Homo sapiens: one gene and its partners. The protein of the gene in region 2 purifies or fractionates together with the protein of the main gene of each other region. This does not show direct contact. Each region holds a gene or a part of one and is shown on either strand. Other genes may lie near its edges.

Evidence for each region. The genes of interacting proteins can lie anywhere in the genome.
Region 1: the proteins of SLC12A4 (region 2) and RAB6A purify together in Homo sapiens (co-immunoprecipitation; 2 studies listed by BioGRID and IntAct, with this or other methods). This does not show direct contact.
Region 3: the proteins of SLC12A4 (region 2) and RAB6B purify together in Homo sapiens (co-immunoprecipitation; 3 studies listed by BioGRID and IntAct, with this or other methods). This does not show direct contact.

Annotation. Positions count from the first base shown.
Region 1 is NC_000011.10:73,751,057-73,758,078, reverse strand, and holds part of RAB6A (ras-related protein Rab-6A), read left to right. Parts: intron 1-7,022. UniProt on the Homo sapiens protein: The small GTPases Rab are key regulators of intracellular membrane trafficking, from the formation of transport vesicles to their fusion with membranes.
Region 2 is NC_000016.10:67,965,636-67,972,933, reverse strand, and holds the start of SLC12A4 (solute carrier family 12 member 4), read left to right. Parts: upstream 1-4,380; coding exon 4,381-4,495; intron 4,496-6,139; exon of another isoform or gene 6,140-6,159; coding exon of another isoform or gene 6,160-6,181; intron 6,182-7,298. UniProt on the Homo sapiens protein: Mediates electroneutral potassium-chloride cotransport when activated by cell swelling. May contribute to cell volume homeostasis in single cells. May be involved in the regulation of basolateral Cl(-) exit in NaCl absorbing epithelia.
Region 3 is NC_000003.12:133,892,865-133,899,817, reverse strand, and holds the start of RAB6B (ras-related protein Rab-6B), read left to right. Parts: upstream 1-3,935; 5' UTR 3,936-4,351; coding exon 4,352-4,421; intron 4,422-6,953. UniProt on the Homo sapiens protein: The small GTPases Rab are key regulators of intracellular membrane trafficking, from the formation of transport vesicles to their fusion with membranes. Rabs cycle between active GTP-bound and inactive GDP-bound states.

The DNA of each region.
Region 1 (7,022 bases), on a different chromosome or scaffold from region 2:
GTTAGAATTCCACAATTCAGCTTTCAAAGACTGTAATCTATGGCAAAGCCTTGTTTCTTCTTAATAGCATTTACCACATTTACAATTATCTTATTTTTTATGTGTTTGTTTTTATTTCCCACAGAAGAATGCAACTCCCATGAAGATAAAAACTATTCTTTTTTGTTCAGTGTGTCCCCATTGCCTAGCGTAGAGCCAGGCTCATAGTAGCTGTTCAGACATGTTGGGTAAATGAATGATGGCTGAATCTAGTAGTAACGAAAGCTAGTAGCCTATGTTACACTCTTTGACATGGTTACGCAATTGATAGTTTAACAATAACACTTAAAACTTACATCATTTGATTGTATACAGGAATATATCAGATACTTAAGGGGGTAGAGAAACCAATCGTTTAGAGGCCCAACCATTTCATTCAAAAAATAGGACTGACCTGAATTTTGTACTTTTTTTTGAGTTGAGCAAAATTCGTCTTCCTTTATTAAAGTTGTTAAATTATTTGCTATTAATGTAACGCATGAAAAGTATTCAAATTATACCAATGATGTGCTCATGGAACTGATTTGAAATTAGGTTTTATTTGGCTTATCAAAAATTTAAGATACTAGGCTGGGTGCGGTGGTTCATGCCTGTAATCCCAGCACTTTGGGAGGCTGAGATAGGTGAATCATCTGAGGTCAGCAGTTCAAGACCAGCCTGGCTAACATGGTGGAGTCCCCGGCTCCCCCCCACCCCATGGCCCGGTCTCTACAAAAATACAAAAATTATCCAGGTATGATGGCGGGTGGGAGCCTGTAATCCCAGCTACTCAGGAGGCTGAGGCAGGAGAATCGCTTGAACCTGAGAGGCGGAGGGTGCAGTGAGCTGAGATCATGCCATTGCACTGCAGCCTGGGTGACAGAGTGAGACTCTGTCTCAAGAAAAAAAAAAAAAAAAAAAAAAAAAAAAATATATATATATATATATATATATATATATATGTATGTATATTTAAGATACTACGCTCTATAGTGAAAATGAATTGTGTCAGTACATGAAGCAGATTGAGTTAATGACATCAATCTTAACCTTAGATAAATTCTTACGGTTTAATAAAGGAATGTTTGGCTGGGCGTGGTGGCTCACGCCTGTAATCCCAGCACTTTAGGAGTCCGAGGCAGGCAAATCACCTGAGGTCAGGAGTTCAAGACCAGCCTGGCCAACATGGCAAAATCCCATCTCTACTAAAAATCCAAAAACTAGCTGGGCGTGGTGGCGTGTGCCTGTAATCCCAGCTACTCAGGAGGCTGAGGCAGGAAAACTGCAACCCAGGAGGTGGAGGTTGCAGTGAACTGAGATTGCCCCACTGCACTCCAGCCTGGGCCTCAGAGCGAGACTTTGTCTCTAAATAAATAAATAAAGGAATGTTGAAATACACAATTGGAAGTTTCCTTGAGGAGTCTGTTTTGTTACTACCTCTGGCTATTGTCTTGAGATGCAGAGGCAGTTTTAGTAATGTCACTCAGTGGTTTACAGTAGAAGATTTCACTATATATACATGTTACCAATTATAAATTAGGAGATGTAATGGCAGAGAGAAGCGCATACTCAGCCTACTACTGTTTTTTTCACTTTATATTGCCTTTTCTTTTTTTCCATCAATGCTGATCAAATTGCAATATGTTAGATAAGGAAAAAATGTCTTATTGTCAGAGACTAGCAGTACTGACCAGTTGTTTTTCTTTTGAGACGGGGTCTACCTCTGTCACTCAGGCTGGAGTGCAGTGGTGTGATCTCAGCTCACTGCACCCTCCACCTCCCAGGCTCAAGTGATCCTCCCACCTCAGCCTCCCAAGTAGCTGGGACAACAGGCACGCACCACCACGCCTGGCTAATTTTTGTATTTTTTTGTAGAGATGGGATTTTACCATGTTGCCCAGGCTGGTCTCAAAGTTTTGAGCTGGCGAGATCCTCCGGCCTCAGCCTCCCAAAGTGCTGGGATTACAGGTGTGAGCCACCACGCCTGGCCAGTACTGAACATTTTATATTGGCTAGATCAGTGGTTTTTAAACTTTTTTTCCCCAAGACCCCTTTCTGCTCTTACAAATTTTTGAGGATCCTGAAGAGCTCTGTTAATGTAGTTGTTATTGTTGTTCTTCTTCCTCCTCCTCCTCTTCTTTCTCCTCCTCCTCTTCTTCCTCCTCCTCTTCCTTCTCCTCCTCCTCTTGTTCTTCTTCCTCCTCCTCCTCTTCTTTCTCTTCCTTCCCCCTTCTCCCTTCCTTCCCCCTTTCCACCTCCCCCTTCCTTTCCTTTTCTCCCTTCCTTCCTCCTTTCCTCTTCCCATTTCCTTCCCCCTTCTTGGATGCAGTGACTGTTCACAGGGGCTATCATGGCCAACTGCAGCCTTGTCTCAAGCTCTCCTCCTGCCTCAGCCTCCCTAGTAGCTGGGACTATAGGCACATGCCACTGTGCCTGACTTTTGTTTATGTAGTTTATGTCAACATTTAGGCCGGGTGCGGTGGCTCACGCCTATAATCCCAGCACTTTGGGAGGCCGAAGTGGGTGGATCACCTGAGGTCAGGGGTTCGAGACCAGCCTGGGCAACATGGCGAAACCCCGTTTCTACTAAAAATACAAAATTAGCCGGGCATGGTGGTGCGTGCCTGTAGTCCCAGCTCTTCGGGAGGCTGAGGCAGGAGCATTGCTTGAACTCGGGAGGTGGAGGTTGCAGTGAGCCAAGATCGTGCCACTGCGCTCCAGCCTGGGCAACAGAGTGAGGCTCCATCTCAAAATAAATGAATAAATATATCAACATTTACTGTATTGAAAAAGAAAATTTCAAAATATTTAATATGTTAAAAAATAATAGGGCCGAGCGTGGTGGCTCATGCTTGTAATCCCAGCATTTTGAGAGGCCGAGGTGGGCGGATCACTTGAGGCCAGAAGTTTGAGACCAACCTGGCCAATATGGTGAAACCCCGTCTCTACTAAAAATACAAAGAAATTAGCCTGGCATGGTGGTGGACGGTCCCAGTGGTAGTGCCAGCTACTCAGGAGGCTGAGGCAGGAGAGTCCCTTGAACCCGGGAGGTGGAGGTTGCAGTGAGCCAAGATCACGCCATTGCACTCCAGCCTGGGCAACGAGCAAAACTCCATCTCAAAAAAATAATAATAATAATAATAAACCCATTGCATGTTAATACCCTTTTTTTTTTTGACTGCATCCCTCTGTTGCCCAGGATGGAGTGAGTGCCTCCCGGGTTCGCGATTCTCATGCCTCAGCCTCCTGAATAGCTGGGACCACAGGTACATGCCGCCATGCCTGGCTAATTTTTTGACTTTTTAGTAGAGACAGGGTTTTGCTATATTGGCCAGGCTGGTCTCAAACTCCTGGCCTCAAGTGACCTGCTTGCCTTGGTCTCCCAAAGTGCTGGGATTACAGGCATGAGCCACTGTGCCCAGCCTTCATGTTAACATCATTTCTGAAATGAAAAAGAACTATTTTCCAAACAGATATTTAGTGAGAGTGACATTGTTTTACATATTTGCAAATCTCTTTAATGTCTGACTTAATAGAGGACAATTGGATTTGCATAGCTGCTTATGCATTCAATCCTGTAATATTACACATCATATAGGCACGGGGAAACTCCACAATACATTTCAAGAGAGTAAGAGTGAAAAATTCAAATAACATCTTAATCTTATGAAAATGGTTTTGACATCCAGGAGTTTGTGGACCTCCCCAAAGGTCTTGGGAGATCCTAAGGGGTCAGTAGACCACTCTTTGTAAACTGCTGGGTTAGGTAATATCAAGTCAATTGTATCTCCTGTTATAATGTTGCCAGTTTTTCATATCTTGTTCTGAAGCCTTAAAACTGCGTGGTACATACAGTTAATGATTTAGAGCACTAGAGGACTGGTAGAGATGGAGAGTAAGAGTCTAGGTTTCATGTTTTAGCAGTGGCTACTGACCTTTGGCAGATTACTCAACATGTCTTTATGCCCCATTTTTCCTTATCTATAACATAAAGATAATAGACCTATCATAGAGTTATTGTGACATTTAAACTAGTCAAATAATGCAAAACATTTAGAAGAGTGCTGGGCACATGAGAAGTGCTCAGAAAGTGTTTTAATTTAACAAATCTTTATTGAAAATTGCTACAGTGTCAGGTGGTTTGGTAGTGCTTACTTTTAAGGAATTTACGTTTTATCAGGGAAGAAATACACAATACTTAATACAATATAGCATGATGAGTGCCACTGCTTTTAAAAGTAGAGCTAAGGCTGGGCGTGGTGGCTCACGCCTGTAATCCCAGCACTTTGGGAGGCCTAGGTGGGCAGATCACTTGAGGTCTGGAGTTTTTTTGTTTTTTTGTTTTTTTTTCAGACGGAATCTCGCTCAGTCACCGAGGCTGGAGTGCAGTGGCGCAATCTCGGCTCACTGCAAGCTCTGCCTCCCGGGTTCATGCCATTCTCCTGCCTCAGCCTCCGGAGTAGCTGGGACTACAGGCGCCCGCCACCATGCCCGGCTAATTTTTTGTACTTTTAGTAGAGACGGGGTTTCACCGTGTTAGCCAGGATGGTCTCGATCTCCTGACCTCGTGATCTGCCTGCCTCGGCCTCCCAAAGTGCTGGGATTACAGGCATGAGCCACTGTGCCCGGCGAGGTCTGGAGTTGGAGACTAGCCTGGCCAACATGGTGAAACCCTGTCTCTACTAAAATACAAAAAATTAGCTGGGCATGATGGCGTGCATCTGTAATCCCATCTCAGGAGGCTGAGGCAGGAGAGTCACTTGAGCCCGGGAGGCAGAGGTTGCAGTGAGTGGCCATGTTGGCCAGGTTAGTCTTGAACTCCTTGCTGTCTCACCCAGGCTACAGTACAGGGGTGCCATTATAGCTCACTGCAGCCACGAGCTCCTGGGCTCAAGTGATCCTCCCACCTCAGCCTCTGGAGCTGTTGGGATTAGAGGCATTCGCCATTGCGCTCGGCTGATTAAAAAAAATTTTTTTAGCAAACGAGGTCTTGCTGTGTTGCCAGGCTGCTTTCCAACTCCTGGCCTCAAGTGATTCCCGCCTCAAGCTCCTGACTCTGGAATTACAGGCATGCACCACCTCACCTGGCTTGGACTTTTTATTAGACTTCCTGATTTTATTTCATCTGGTCTCTTTCATTTCCTTAAGCTTCTGTTTTAATTCTCATAAGATTTTTCTCAACTTTCTTCCATTTTTTTATTATTTTTTTCTGCTATCATTTTAATTTTTTTTTTCTTTTTTTTGAGCTGGAGTCTTACTCTGTCACCCAGGCTTGAGTGCAGTGGTGCAATCTCAGCTCACCGCAACCTGTGCCTTCCAGGCTCAAGTGATCCTCCCACCTCGGCCTCTTGAGTAGCTGGAACCACAAGCATGCGCCACCAAGGCCGGCTATTTTTTGTATTTTTGGTAGAGATGGCGTTTTGCCATGTTGCCCAGGCTCATCTCGAATTCCTGAGCTCATGCGATCTGCCTGGCCTCGGTCTCCCAGAGTGCTAGGATTACAGGCATGAGCCACCGTGCCAGTTCTTATCATTTTAATTTCAAAGAGTGTTTTTGTTCATCTTCTGAATGTTCCTTTCTGTAGCATCTGTGTTTTTGTTTTTTTGAGACAGAATCTTGCCCTGTCACCCCGGCTGGAGTGCAATGGTGCAATCTTGGCTTACTCCAACCTCTACCTCCCGGGTTCAAACGATTCTCATACCTCAGTCTCCTGAGTAGCTGAGATTACAGGCATCTGCCACCATACCTGGCTAATTTTTGTATTTTTAGTAGAGACGTGATTTCACTGTTTGTCAGACTGGTCTCGAACTCTTGACCTTCAGTGATCTGCCCCCTTGGCCTCCCAAAGTGCTGGGATTACAGGTGGGAGTCACCACACCCAGCCTTCTGTAGCATCTTTTTAATTCCCAATTTTTACCTTTTCTTGTCATTTTGAAGATGTTAATAAGATACATGACTTTTTTCTTCCTGCATATTTAGTTTTTGTAAATTGTTTTTCATCTCTGCTTGTTTTAGTTTCTCTATTTCCTGTTTGATGTGGTCCTCAAAAAACTAGTGTTTCTTGGCTATTTGCTTCTATTTAAGAGGTGAGCACTGAGAGTTGTGTTTTTGTTTTTGTTTTTTATGCTCTTGTGTGGGTTTGTGGGTCTTTACTGCAGAATGATCTTGCTGAGTTCCTTTTTGGGAGTCTCTGATGTTAGGTCTTTAAGTCTTTTTGCTGGTCAGATTCCCTGAAGAAGAATTACTCAGTGCACTGCTGGAGAGAATCTTGGTTGTCAGTGTTCTTGGAGGTGAATGGAGAGAGGGTTTGAAGTCATAACATACAGTAAATGCATTTAGTCTCCTTGCTTTTAATATTGTTTGTACTCTATCCCTCAGCTGTACCTTGTAATCCCTAGTACAGAAACCCCGTTTTTCTTTCTCAGCAGCATTATCTTCTAATTTTCAGCTGTGTTGAACAGAAGAGGGAATAGAAGAGAGTGTTAATCTACTTGTTAAATAGACTTTCATCCCTTCCTTCTGTTTTTAGCTCCATCTTTACCTTTATTTCTAGATGTACTTGGCCCAGACAATTCCTAAGTCAATGGGGGTTCTGTGGTCCAAATCAGCTTTCTCAGCTTTCCCCATTGTCGGTTTAAAATTGATCATTATTGAGTCTTTTAGGTCAATTACTACTTTTCCATTTGCTTTCTACTTTCTAACTTGGATGATTCAGATTTTCCGAGAACCAACACTTAATACTTGCTTAGGGTTGGTTAGTTGGTTTGTTTTTTGAGACGGGGTCTTTCTGTGTTGCCCAGGCTGGAGTGCAGTCCATTCACAGGCATGATTATAGCGTACTACAGCCCGGAACTCCTGGCTCAAGTGATCCTCCTGCCTCAGCCTCCTGAGTAGCTGGGACTATAGAGTCAGGCCAGTGAGCCTGACTCTTTTCTTTTTTAAAAGTACACTTTGGCCGGGGGGCATGGTGACTCACACCTGTAATCCCAGCACTTTGGGACACT
Region 2 (7,298 bases):
ACCAGAGACCCTGTCTTTAAAAAAAAATGAAAGAAAAAGAACAAGCAGAAATGTAAGACCCAGGCATGGTAGTGTGTGCCTGTAGTCCCAGGCACCCACCCTATACCCATTAAGCAGTTAACCACCACATGCTTTTTTCTGTTTTTTGAGACGGAGTTTTGCTCTTGTTGCCCGGGCTGGAGTGCAATGGTGCGATCTTGACTCACTGCAACCTCCACCTCCTAGGTTCAAGCAATTCTCCTGCCTCAGCCTCCCAAGTAGCTGGGATTACAGGTGCCTGCCATCACGCCCAACTAATTTTTGTATTTTTAGTAGAAACGAGGTTTCACCATGTTGGTCAGGATGGTCTTGAACTCCTGACCTCAGGTGATCCAACCACCTTGACCTCCCAAAGTGCTAGGATTACAGGCATGAGCCATGGTGCCTGGCCTGCTTTTTTTTTTTTTTTTTTTGAGACGGAGTCCTGCTCAGTCGCCCAGGCTGGAGTACAGTGGCATGATCTCAGCTCACTGCAACCTCCGCCTCCCAGGTTTAAGCAATTCTTGTGCCTCAGCCTCCGGAGTAGCTGGAATTACAGACATGTGCCACCACACCTGGCTAATTTTTCTTTTTCAGACAGAGTCTCGCTCTGTCTCCCAGGCTGGAATGCAGTGGCCCGATCTTGGCTCACTGCAACCTCCATCTCCTGGGTTCAAGTGATTATCCTGCCTCAGCCTCCTAGATAGCTGGGACTACAGGCACATGCCACCACGCCAGGCTAATTGTTTTATTTTATTTATTTATTTATTTTATTTATTTATTTTTATTATTATTATTTTGAGATGGAGTCTTGTTCTGTCGCCCAGGCTGGAGTGCAGTTGCCCAGGCAACTTGCACTGTTGCCCAGGCTGGAGTGCAGTGGTGCCATCTCAGCTCACTGCAACTTCCACCTCCCAGGTTTAAGCAATTCTCCCACCTCAGCCTCCCAAGTAGCTGGGATTACAGGTGCTTGCCACCACACCCATCCAAATTTTGTATTTTTAGTAGGGATGGGGTTTCACCATGTTGACCAGGCTGGTCTCGAACTCCTGACCTCAGGTGATCTGCCTGCCTCGGCCTCCCAAAGTGCTGGGATTATAGGTGGGAGCCACCACTCCCAACTGAATTTTGAATTTTCGATCTAGATATTCTAGATATTCCTGATTTATGGTTTTTTTTTTTTGAGACAGAGTCTCACTCTGTCGCCCAGGCTGGAGTGCCAGTGGCGCCATCTCCGCTCACCGCAAGCTCCACCTCCCGGGTACACGCCATTCTCCTGCCTCAGCCTTCCCAGTAGCTGGGACTACAGGCGCCCGCCACCACACCCAGCTAATTTTTTTATATTTTTAGTAGAGACGGGGTTTCACCGTGTTAGGCAGGATAGTCTCGATCTCCTGACCTCGTGATCTGCCCACCTCAGCCTTCCAAAGGGCTGGGATTACAGGCGTGAGCCACCGCGCCCGGCCTAATGTCTATGCTCCTCAAATGTCTTTTGAGTTTGGCCTGTGAGGTTATTTTTCCTGTGATGGCTGTGATATTGGAGAAGATGTGTACTGGCCTCGGAGTTCCCCATCGTCCCCTCTGTGTTTGTCAGTTGGGCTCTAGTGGCCTATCTCCCTGGCACAACACCCCACCCTACCCCTGAGGCTGCAGGGTGTGCAGTGCCAGGGTGGGAGCTATACGGAAACTTTGCAGAGCAAAGAGGTAGACTAAGAGGGCACCTGTTCATTCTTTATTTGAAAAATGTGTTGGGACCGGGAGCAGTGGCTCACGACTGTAATCCTAGCACTTTAGGAGAGGCCAAGGTGGGAGGATCGCTGAGCCCAGGAGTTTGAGACCAGCCTGTGCAGCAAAGTGAGACCCTGTCTCTATGAGAAATGAATAAATAAAATTAGCTGGGCATGGTGGCATCTTAGCTACTTGGGAGGCTGAGGGGAGAGGATCATTTGAGGAGTTTGAGGCTGCAGTGAGCTGTGATTGCACCACTGCACTCCAGCCCAAAGTGACAGAGCAAGACCCTCTCTCTAAATTAAAACAAACAAACAAACACCTCTAAGATCTTAAAAAAAAAAAATGTGTTGGGGCCAGCCAGGTTTTGAGGATACCAGAGTGACAAGACCGACAGGGTCCTGCCCTTGCAAAGTCCACAGTATAGATAGAATCTTAATCAGTGATTTCCACCAATCCATTTCTGCCTGCAATGGGAACTATGAAGGGAAAGGCTCAGGGCAGCCCAGTCCAGATGAGGGGTGGGGTGGGGTGGCAGGGCATGTGTCTGAGAAATCTGAGGGGAGGTGGTGCTCCCCACCAAGACCTCCTGGATCAGGAGGTTTTTTGTTTGTTTGTTTGTTTTTGAGATAGAGTCTTGCTCTGTTGCCCAGGCTGGAGTGCAATGGCACTATCTCGGCTCACTGCAACCTCTGCCTCCGTGGTTCAAGTGATTCTCCTGCCTCAGCCTCCCGAGTAGCTGGGATTACAGGCACCTGCCACCACACCCAGCTAATTTTTGTATTTTTATTAGAGACGGGGTTTCACCATGCTGGCCAGGCTGGTCTCGAACTCCCAGCCTCAGGCGATCCACCCGCCTTGGCCTCCCAAAGTTCTGGGATTACAGGCTTGAGCCACCAGGCCGGCCTTGGAGGTTTTTTGTCTGTTTGAGACAGTGTTTCGCTCTTGCTGGAGTGCAATGGCGCCATCTCGGTTCACTGAAACCTCTGCCTCCCGGGTTCAAGTGATTCTCCTGCCTCAGCCTCCCAACTAGCTGGGATTACAAGCACCCGCCACCACGCCCAGCTAATTTTTTTGTATTTTTAGTAGAGACGGGGTTTCACTATTTGACCACGCTGGTCTCAAACTCCTGACCTCAGGTGATCCTCCCGCCTCAGCCTCCCAAAGTGTTGGGATTACCGGCGTGAGCCACCGCGCCAGGCCTGGATCAGGAATTTGATAAGTGAGGGTAGGGACAGAGGCTAGGTAGATGTCCCCCAGAGTGAACAGTGGGTGATGCCCAGAAACTATAGGTCTCAGGTGAGAGAGAGAGATTTGAAGGGCTGAGGCTGCGAGGTGGGTGGCGAGGGATGCGCCTGCAGAGGTCGGGGTCCGGCCGCATTGGGCAGGGCCTTATGGGCCCGGAGCTAGTAGGATTTTCCTTCAGAAGAGGCGGCTCTACGTGAGCAGGGGCGAGGGCAGGGAGTCCAGTAGGAAGGCCGCTACTGTGGGCGGCCGAAGGTGGCGTGAGGGGCGGGGGGGTCAGGTCGGCGGGCCCGCTGCGGGGGCCCTGGGGGAGGGGTCAGAGGGTGGTAAGCTCGGGGGTCGTCTTGCGGGGCCCAGCGGCTCTGATTCCGTACCCCCCACCCCAAGGGCTGGAGGCTGGCAGTAGGCGTAGTCAGAGGACGCCACCCGAGCCACGCGAGGGAGAAGAGTGGAGATAGACAAGTAAGATGGGCTCTGGGGTTTTCTGATAGAGAAAAAAATAGTAAAGCCAGCTAGATAAGTAATCTGAAGCAGTGGAGAAGAAAGTGAAAGAAACGTTAAAAGCAAATAAGTAAACGGCTTGGATAGAGGAACACCCAGGAGGCGAGATAGAGAAAGTTAAAATGAAGGGACTTGGCTACAGCACCCAGTGCACTGTCCCAAAAAGGCAAGCGAGGCAAGCGGGGCGGGGAAGGGTGGGTGTGCGTGTTCTTCCTGCGGAGGACGCAGCAGCCCCTGGGGAGGGACCGAGAATCCCCAGCTGCCTCCAACAGGAGAGGCTGCAGCTAGAGGGCCCAGGGCTGGGACGGGACCTTCGCGGGGGTCTGGTTCCCAGGGTCGCGGAGAAATGGGATGCAGACGCTGGAAATGGGAAGGAGGTATACGGGGTTGGTGGGAGGCCCTGGGCAGGTGGCTTCTGCAGTCCTGGGCCGGTCCGGCCTACCCTGCCCCGTCCCTAAGTAACAGAGCGCTTCGTAAGCCCAGGGCGCAGAGCCAGGACACTCCGCGACCCATCTCACGGAGCCCTAAAACAACCCCGAGGTGGAAGTGTGTTTCCCCCATTTTACAAATGTTGCATCTGGGGCTCAGAGAGGGCGGCCTCTCACCCGAGGTCACACAGGAATCGGGCCCGCCCCCAGGCCGTGGAGCCACTAGGAGTGCTCCCGCCCAGGGGTCTTCCCGCCACCAGGGCCCCCGCTCTGGGAGGAGCCGGCCGAGCCCCTCCCGCTCTCCGCCCCCGAGGGGCGGCCCGGGGGGCGGGCGGAGGAAGTGAGCGCAGCGGGGAGGAATGCGAGCGGGCGGGGCGTGTCGGCCCGGGGCGGCGGGGACAGCGGCGGGGACAGCGGCGGGCGGCTGGGACGGCGGGTGCGGCGGGGCCGAGCCCGCACGATGCCTCACTTCACCGTGGTGCCAGTGGACGGGCCGAGGCGCGGCGACTATGACAACCTCGAGGGGCTCAGTTGGGTGGACTACGGGGAGCGCGCCGAGCTGGATGACTCGGACGGTGAGGGCGCGTTCTGAGGGGCCGTGGCGGGGCAGCGGGGCCTGCCACCCGGGGCCGCCATCCCGGGCCCGCGCCCGCACCTATCCCGGGACCTTGCGCGCACACGTCGGTGCGGACTCAACTTTTTTTGGACCGCGCCGCTGCCACTGGCTCCCCGCCCTGCGCGCGCAGACACGATTTTCCTCGGCCCCCGGCGCCCGCGCCCGGCCGCTTTCTCCACCCCAGCTCCTCCCCTGTGGGCCCCGGGCGGGGGCTGCAGACGTGGCCGCCCAGGGAGGCCAGCCGGCCGGGCCGCCCGGCTTGGGGACAGGGCCGAGACCCCATCTCAGGCCCTTCCCGGCCCTTCAACTTCGGTGAATCCCACATCCTTTTCTCGCCTCGGTTCCTCATTTGAGATTCAGCGTCTTTGCCTTTGAGACGATCCGCTCCCCAACTGCCCAAACCCCTCCGTGTGCCTCTCTGCGCCTACCTGCACTCTGGCCAGAGTGTGCCTACTGGGGGGTCTATGGGTAACTGCCCGTGAGTGCGCCGGTGTAGATCTGTAGGGACAGTGGGCCTCAGTGAAGCACTCACATGGAGCCGGACGTGTCTAGGCACTTGAAGTGAGTTAACTCGTTTAATCCTCCAGCATCACCCTTGGGATAAGTACTGTTACTCTCATTAGGAAGCAGTGAAGGGAGGGGTGGCGGTTATATAACTTGCCCAGGGGCAGTCAAGCCTGGGTTTGAGATTCCAGCACCTTAACTCTTTAACTTAGGTGCCAGGGCCGAGAGGTAAGCCCCATCTCCCTCCTCCTTCCTCCCAGGTGCCCGCGTCTCTCCACAGCCCTTTCTCTATCTCCTACCCCAGGAGGCCCCCCAGAGGGCTGTTCTTGTTAAGGCCCACCCTCGGAGCACGAACACGGCTGAGGACATGTGTCTGTGTACGTAGTGGCATATGCATGTGTAATTGTGCTTGTACAAGTGTGTAGCTGTGGGTATCACAGGGTGAAGGCTGGTTCAGGTCAGGGCATTCTCACAGCCCCTGTTTCCTGCAGGGTTGACAGTGATGAGGATGGTGATTTGACTGATGATAAATGCCTGTGATATCTGTGACCGATCATGATGGAGATATGTAGGAAGTGTGTGGTTGACACGTGTCAGGTGACGTTGTCTGGACCTCTGATCCATCTGTGATGGTGACACGACTGAGATGATCCATGCCCAATGTGAATGATGGCTATGTGTGTGTATCACTTGACTGCCATGTGCAGAGGTAGCACAGGACAGTGGCATGGGCTGCTGGACATTGCAGAGGTTTTACAGGCTTGACAGCTGTGTGAGTGCCCCAGCCTCCATGCCCTTGTCTGCCCCTAGCTTGATTCAAGTGGTCAAAGCAAAAGCCAGCATTCCTGCTTCCCTAACCCTGGGAGGACCTCTCTCCCCAGAGGGTAGACTGGGCTGCATCCCCAGGATCAGCCTGGACCAGTGGGCAGGCAGAGCTGAGCCTAGCTGCTGGCCCCACCTTGGCCACGCCTTGGCCCCTACAGGGTGACTGGAGGGACCTGGAGCTACATTGGCTGAGTCCTGCTAGATCCCCGCAAGCTAGGCCAGCTCCTCCCACTGCCTCCCTTCCTCTTTCTCCTCCTCTTACTCCTTTCCAGCCAGACCTTGGCTGTCTACAGGATGGGGGACACCCTGAGCCCCGGTGAGTGATTTTGATCCTTGGTGGGGACTGCAAAGGGTCAGAGGGCACAAAGCACAGTGAGCCTCAGATCTATCTCCTGCCCCTTCCCCAGTTCAGTGCCCACACCTCTGCTCTGGGAGGCCTAGATGGGCTTGCTCATCCAGCCCACCTTGGCCTGTGGGCAGGGGGTAGGGAGGTGCTGGAGGGGGCACCTCAGGCAGATGTCCGTGTACACAGGGATCAGGAGGGTCACCTGGATCCCCACCTGCCACTGGTGCAGTCACAGTTGCTGGTGGGAACACAGTTGTGTAGCTCACAGGCAGTCCCTAGGCCTAGGCCATATTCAGATTTACTGGGGATCTCAGGTGGTGTCTGAGCAGCTTCAGCCTGGCAGGCATGTCCAGACCTGCCCTGGAATTTTTGGAATGGCTGAGGCCAGAACAGGAGGTCTGAAGCCGAGGGCAGTACAGACATCCAGGCACTACTTAGACCCTTACATTCCCACAAGCCCTTGGGAGCTTTGGGGGAACTCCGAGGAGTGCCCACTGGGCGTCTGGCACTAACTGTCCCTTTTCTAGTGCATCTGGGCAGTTGGAAAAACAAGTGTTACAATCTCCACTTCATAGAAGAGGAAACCAAGGCCGCACAGGGAGTAAGCATGTCTCCCTGGGTCACACGGGGGAAGGTCTGGGAATCCAAGCCAGTCTGCCGCAGTCTGAATGCCCAGAGGCCTAGGTATGCGTACCCTGGCCAAATTGCAGCACTCTTCTCTATTTTTAAAGATTGTGCTGCATAGATGGACTGGAGTCTGTAGTAGGAACGGAACCTGCAGCTCCGCCCCTACAGGGCTCTGATGGACCCTGGGACCCAGATGTGGCCTTCTCCCTGGGTGACCTTGCCTCTGAACATCTTTGAGCTTCACTCTCCTTGTCCCTAAAAGGTAGTAAATGCTCTCTACTGGAATGTTGCTGTGAGAACTAGAGACAACTTTTGGAAGGGCCCCGAGCCATCCTAGAGTGATAGCTGAAGGGACAAGGGATAGGCTAGGTCTTAGAGGACCATTTACAGGCATTTGTGGGGAGCTGCTGTGTGCTCAGCTGTATATTTTCTGGATAGCAATACAGTCTACCCAGAAAGA
Region 3 (6,953 bases), on a different chromosome or scaffold from region 2:
ATAAAATTCAAAAGATGCAAAACAAAAAAGTATTGTTGGAGGACACATCCAAATGTGATAAAAACTCAAAGAAAAGCCACAGTTCTGGATTTTCAAGCTGGGGAGAGAGGGAGGGGCAGAAACACCTGAGGGCCTCAAAAGTACTGTAATATTTGAGTGCTCCAGCCAGGTGAAGTGAAAAAAACAATCCCAAAGGGTGATATACTGTGTAATGCCACTTATATAAGATTCTTGAAATAACACATTTATTGAAATGAAGAACAGATTAGTGGTTGCCAGAGGTTAGGAAGGGGTTGAGGGTGGGAGGAAAGTGGGTGTGGCTATAAAAGGGGAACATGAGGGCTCTTTGTGTGTCAAGGTACAGAACAGAAATGTACCTTGACTGTCTTAATTCCAGTATCCACATTATGATACTGTAGTATAAAGTTCTGCAAGATCTTACTCTTGGTGAAAACTAGATAAAGGATATACAGATCTGTCTTTTTTTTTTTTCCTGTTTGTGAATCTACAATGATCTCAAAAATTTAATTTAAATATATATATATATATATATAACACAGCAAAGGGCTCAGGAAAACCAAGATCTTGAAGAAAATGAAAAATATAGATGATGCTGTAGTGCTATATGATCTAACGAATATCTTTGAAAAATAGTTTGGCACAAAATTAAACGTACACTTGTTTTTATACCACAATTTACCTACTGACACATATCTTAGAAAAACTTCACAGAGGCATCAAGAGACATGTAAAGAATGTTGATGGCAGCATTGTTTGTTAATAGCAGAAACAAAACTGAGTGCATTTTCCAATGTTAATTTCCTGGTTTTACTAAGCAATGTGGTTATGTAAGATGTTATCACTGGGGTAGCTTGGTGCAGGATACATAGTAACTCCCTGCACTGTTTTTTATAACCTCTATGTGAGTATAAAATTATTTAAAATAATTTTAAAAAAGGCCAGGCGTGGTGGCTCACACCTGTAATCCCAGCACTTTGGGAGGCTGATGCAGGCGGATCACGAGGTTAAGAGATTGAGACCATTCTGGTCAACATGGTGAAACCTCGGCTCTACTAAAAATAAAAAAATTAGCTAGACCTGGTGGTGCGTGGCTGTAGTACCAGCTACTCGGGAGGCTGAGGCAGGTGAATTGCTTGAACCTGGGAGGCGGAGGTTACAGTGAGCCGAGATGGCGCCGCTACACTCCAGCCTGGTGACAGACCAAGACTCCATCTCAAAAATAATAACAACAATAATAAAATAAAATAAAATAAAAATTTTAAATGACACATTTTACAGAAAATCATTTAAAAATTGGGGCATAACTAGAATACTAACCAGCAGTGAAAATGAAAGAACTGCTGCTACATGAATTAACAAATGGATCTCAGAAACATGATGTTAAGAAACATGCAAGTCAGGACAGAAAACACAGTTTGATACCTTATATAAGATTCAAAAGATGCAAAACAAAACAAAGTATTGTGAAGGACACATCCAATGTGATAAAACTCAAAGAAAAGCTAAGATTCTGGATTTCCAAGTTGGGGAGGGAGGAAGGAGAAGAAAGCACCTGGGGGCCTGAAAAGTACTATAATATTTGAGCCCTCCAGCTGTGTAGAGGGTAAATGGGCACTCAGAGTGATAGGTTTTCTTTGTAACTTACATATACACAGCACATACTAAATAGGAAGATTTAAAGAATTTTTTTAAATGGAATGCACAGATTCTATGATATGGAAGAAACTCTTTCTAGTGAGGTTGCCAGGCTGAGGTTCAGTGGCCCCATTTTCCACCTGGAGAAAGTCTGTCTGCTTTAGGGCAGGTTAAGGACAAGACTCAAAATCAGGGGAGATAAGCAATGATAGTTGGAGGAGAGAGACTTGGAGCAGAGCAAACTTGGAGTCTCTAAGGCTCTCATTTCCACAGCATGATGACTGCATTCTGAGAGCAATGCCAGTATCTGCTCCAGCGACGTGAGCCCGGTAGTCGGAGCCGGGTTTTTGTCATTTGAACTGGAAGAATTATGACAGAGTCCCCCAAAGTAAGCTGGACCATAGTCAGCCCAGCTGGACCTGGTAAGCATATGGGATGACTTGGAGGCTTAGAGGTGCCCAGAGGGGCCCTGCCCCAGCCCTCCCTCCCCTACTGCCATACCACCTTACATGTGCGGGACCAGATGATCAGAGGAGGTACAGGACCTGCCTAGGCTTACCCAAAAGATGGTGCCTTTTCTGGCACACCTCAGCTGTTTTGTCTTGCCACCGATGATCTCATCAGGTCAGGATGAGAGGGTACAGGGAGACAGCACTAGATGTTAGGAGAAGGTGCAGGTTGGAGGAGTGTTGCATGGCTGGGTACCTTGGCCAGTAGCTCACTGGCCCTTCTTTGGAGGGATCACTTATAGAGACGGGAAGGGCTGTGACTTGGGAGTCTCCTCTCCTTTCAGAGCTTTCTTCAACCCCAAGCTGGATATGGTCTCCTAAGAGAGCAGGAGCCCCAGAGAAGTGGGTGGGTGTCTGGAGGGTTACCCTGAGCCTGGTGCCAGCCACAACGGGGCAGATATTCTAGGTGATGACTTACAATCCCTGGGGTTCCAAACTAAAGGTAATTATGAGAATAGGACAGTTATTTTGATTTGAGTTCTAGATGTTCATTCAAACATTCAACAACTATTTCTTAAACTCTGAGCTATGTCCTTGGGATGCAGTGGTGGAGCTTCAACTACTGCTTTTATGGAACTTGTGGTCAGGTTTCTAACAAGAAATAGGAAAGAGATTCGAGGTGAGCACACCAGGGAGACAGATAGGCTTGCCCAAGCAAGCCCCATAAGTCAAAAAGGGGGTAACAAGTGTCCACGAGAAATCTGGAGGTGAAGGTTGTGTCTCACTCCTCTTTCTCTTTCTATAACACATGCGTGCACACACCATCGTGTTCACCGACATGCAGATTATTATCTCAAATAAATGCTCACTGAACAGCCATAAATGAACAAGACCACGCTGTGGCAGAACAGTAAGGGACAGCTTTGTAAAACCTCAATTAACCAGCATGCCTTAGGCTCGGGCTGTCTTGGGAGTGTTTCTAGCACTTGGCGTCTGCTCTTTGCTCTCACTCACTCACAACTTGGTCTGTGTGCCTCGATGGACCAGGCAAGTAGAGGCCAAGGAGAGGTCGCCCACATGTCCTCAGATAGCTCATTGTCCAGATACACCTAATTGCCAGGGTGGGGAGTGGCATTGTCAGCCTGGCGACCCCGGGATCAAGAAACGCAGGGCACTGTCCTGGAGATAGTGGCACTGGCATTCAGAGCGTCACCGTTCCTTCTCTCCCATGGGGCAGGTTAGGATTTGGCATAAAATGATCCAAATGAGCAGCTGGTTTGAGGTAGGCGCGCCTGATATTGGCAGCTCCTCTCTCGCTGGCCAGGTCTGCGGGGGCACCCACAGACTCCACAAGAGGCCGCCCAAATAAAGGGTCTAGGCCTCGAGAGGGAAGGGCGGGCTAGAAGCCACGGGGGGCAAGAGTCGAGCCCCATCTGCGCCAAGTACGCCAGGTTTCCCTAGGTCTGACCGCCCTGACGGGCCTCGCCACACCCTGGCTCTCCCCCACCTTCGTTCCTTTCCGCCCTGTCGGTCGGACGACTGCGCTGTGCATCGGTGTCTCGCGAGGTGGAGGAAGGGACTGGCATCTAGGTTTAAAAGACCAGAAACAAATGTCCCCTGACAATTTCTGTCATTTTCTGGATTCAAAAGAGGGGTAGAGTGGGGAAGACAGACGCAGCGGGGCAGCGAGACACGGTCCCCCCCGGGGGGCTCTCAGGGGTACGGCGAGGAGGTTCTCTCCTGCCCGGGTGCGGGCTCGGGTGGGCGGGCGCACGCCCCCCAGCCCCGCAGCCCCGCGGGCCCCGCATGACATCAGAGGCTGGGGAGCGCACAGAGCGCAGGCGCCGGCGGAGGAGGCAGGCGGGAGGGGGCCGACTGGCGCGGCTCTGGAGAGCGCTCCTCCGCCCCGCGCGCCGTCCCTGCGCCCCGCTCCGCCCGCGCCTCTCTCCCAGCGCCGCGCCTCGGGCGTAAAGAGCGCGCCCCTCGCACCGCAGCCAGTGCCGACCGCAGCAGCCCAGCCCCAGCCTTCCTCCGCCTCCGCCTCTCTCTCCTCCTCCTCCTCCGCCGCCGGACACGCAGCCGCAGGCCGGGACCGGGACGCAGCTGGGGAGTCAGGGACGCGCGCAGCCAGCCCTTCCCCCTCCGGCTCCCGCACCGCCGGCCGCCTCCCCTCGCCCTCCTACTCTCCCCTCCCTGCTCCTTCGCTTTTTCCTCCTCCTCCTCTCCCGGCCCCGGCTGCCAGCACCATGTCCGCAGGGGGAGATTTTGGGAATCCACTGAGAAAATTCAAGTTGGTGTTCTTGGGGGAGCAGAGCGGTAAGTACCCGGCTTAATCTCTTGGCTTGTCGCCGAGTCGACCCCCGCCGCCCAATCGCCCACCCCATTGGGACCCCCGGCCCAGGCTCGGAAAGGCCCCTCCTTGCCAGGGTAGAGGAGAGGGACAGGGATGGGGAGGTCGGGGCGGGGTCGGGCTGGGGAGGGGCCAAGGGTGAGGACGGAGGAGGCGCTGGAGCCTGGGGTGGAGGTGAGGGTGGGCTCTGGGTGGGGGGCCCGGGGTGTGGGTGCAGGTGCGGCGCTGCAGGGGGCCCGGAGGGCGGCGGCTGGCTCCGCGGCGCTGGCCAGGGCGTGAAGGAACCGGGCTCGCTGGCTAGCTCACACTGCGGCACCGGCTGCGGGCGACCGCGCAGGTGGCTGGGTGCTGGCGGGGGTGGGGAGAGCGACGGGCGCCCCCCTTGGAGAACGAAGCGAAGCTGGGGTCTGGCCGGGCCTCACTCCGCTGCACTGGAGGGGTGTTCCCTGCGGACCCTGCTGGGAACCATGCGAAAGGGCACGTCCAGGGCGTGGGACAAACAGCCACCGGGGAGAAAAGAGCGACACCTGTCTCTGCTCGAAAGAGCGAGTGCAGGCCATGGGGGAACGGGGAGCCTACCTCCCCTGGCTCACGTCCGACTGGGCACAGAAGGTTCTAGACCCGCTGCCCTTCGCCGGCGCTTGTTAGTCTCCTTGCTGCCCAGGGATCTGGGCAATTGCAGTGAGGGCTACCCCAACTCGAGGCGATTTGGGGAATGATACAGGGGCACCTCACACCGAGAGGCTGTGAAGTCTGGCTCTGGGCAGAGAAAGGCCCAGGCGACACGCCCTGCCTAGCTTCCCAGCACTCCTCCAGAGAGCATCGGTGGATTCTTCCCACCCCCACCTCCCAGCTCACCGCCCTTCTTGGGGGAGGGGAGGTCACCCTGGCAGTCGGCCAGAGCTGGGGGAGGGGGAGACTGCTTCTCCGCTGCCCGGCTCCCTCCCCAGGAAAACATCTCTGAAAACCAGGTTAGTCCCTAGAGGCGGGAAGCCCAGATTGAAGGGCAGGGACCCCTCTGCCACCTGTAGGAAGGAGTGGCTTTCAGAGCATCCCTCCAGAGGCCTCTCGCATGGGGCTGCAGGGAGACAAACTGAGCTCTGGTCAGCTCTGCTCTGGGAGAAGGCTGTCCTTGCGGGACAGGACCCCAGCTCTGCCTCTGCAGACCAGTCCTGTTCACCTGGGTTGGTGCCTCTCTGACAAGGGGGCCCAAAAGAAAGGCAGCTGTGGGAGGACTGGGTGGGCCCAGGAACAGTGCTACTGTGCTGTGTGTACATGAGGGTTATGGAGGTCACGTGGCTGGCTCTTGTCTGCTGATACTCATTGCCTAAGATGGATGGTTCAGAGAAGGACGTTAGAAGGTAGTGTCCAGGCCCAGTATGGAGATGGGTTTGGGGGACAGGCTGGGCATTTCAGAAGAAGATCCACTCAGCCAGCCAGCGTTTGCCCTGGATTCTGATTGCCTGTTTTTAATAGATCCCAGTTTCATAGAGCTGACCATACCCTGTGTCTGGAAGGGATTTTGGTGGTATTCACATCCCAGTGCTAGTCTCACCCGGCCTGGAGCCCTGGGAGATAACCTGCAGGGATCAGGCAGCCTGGGGGTTGAATTCTTAGCTGTGTTGTCTTTAGTAAAATTTGAGGCCTCTCTGTGACTCACTTTCTGTCTCTGAAAAATGGTTGCTTGAAGACAATTCTCTTACTTCTTCATGTTTCTTTAGTGCCTCTCAAAGTGCCTGGCCCCTGGTAGGTTCTCAGCAAACATTTGTTCTAAGTCTGCACAAGCTTCAGAAAGGACTAGGAGTTTGGTGAAGAAAGTGTCTCTGGTGAGTTTGAGGGAACATCTGGGCTCCTTCAGAATCCCTGATGAACGGAGGCCCCTGCTGGGCTCCACAGACCCCCTTTGCTCCCAAAATCACAGAAATGAGAGCTGAAGCCTAAGAAATGAACCCACCACCTCTCCCATATGTTCAAATGGGAAGTCTGAGCCCCAGGGAACAGGGAGGCCTTGCCTGGAGTCCCAGAGTCCCATTGTGAGTTGCTAATGCTTCTGGGCTGGAGCCCCACCTCTCATTTCCAGTCCAATATTTTTCACTAGCGTGTCATTGTGAAGTAAGATGACCTTGAATTGGGGAAGCCAACAACTGGGGAGCCTCCCCAAGAGGGAGTAAGGGTTGCTTCTGTCCAGCCAGGCTTATAGTTGGGGCTTGTGACTGGTAGGAATGCTGAGTAGTTGGTAAGGAGCAGGGTTGTGAGCCCTTGGAACATGGTCATTAGAGAGTCACTGCTATCAGTGAGATGGGCTGCTGGCCACCCTGGTGCCTTCTGTCAGGGAGTCCCAAGGCCCTGAAAAGCCTGTTTCCAATTTGTTGCATTGTTAGTGGGTTCTTTTAGGTTTTACACAGCTTTTGAGTTAGGTAGGGGACATGTATGTGCATCTCTAAGCCTTATGGGATGGGGAGTCACCTCCACAGCCGCTTCTTCTACCTTGCCTGCAC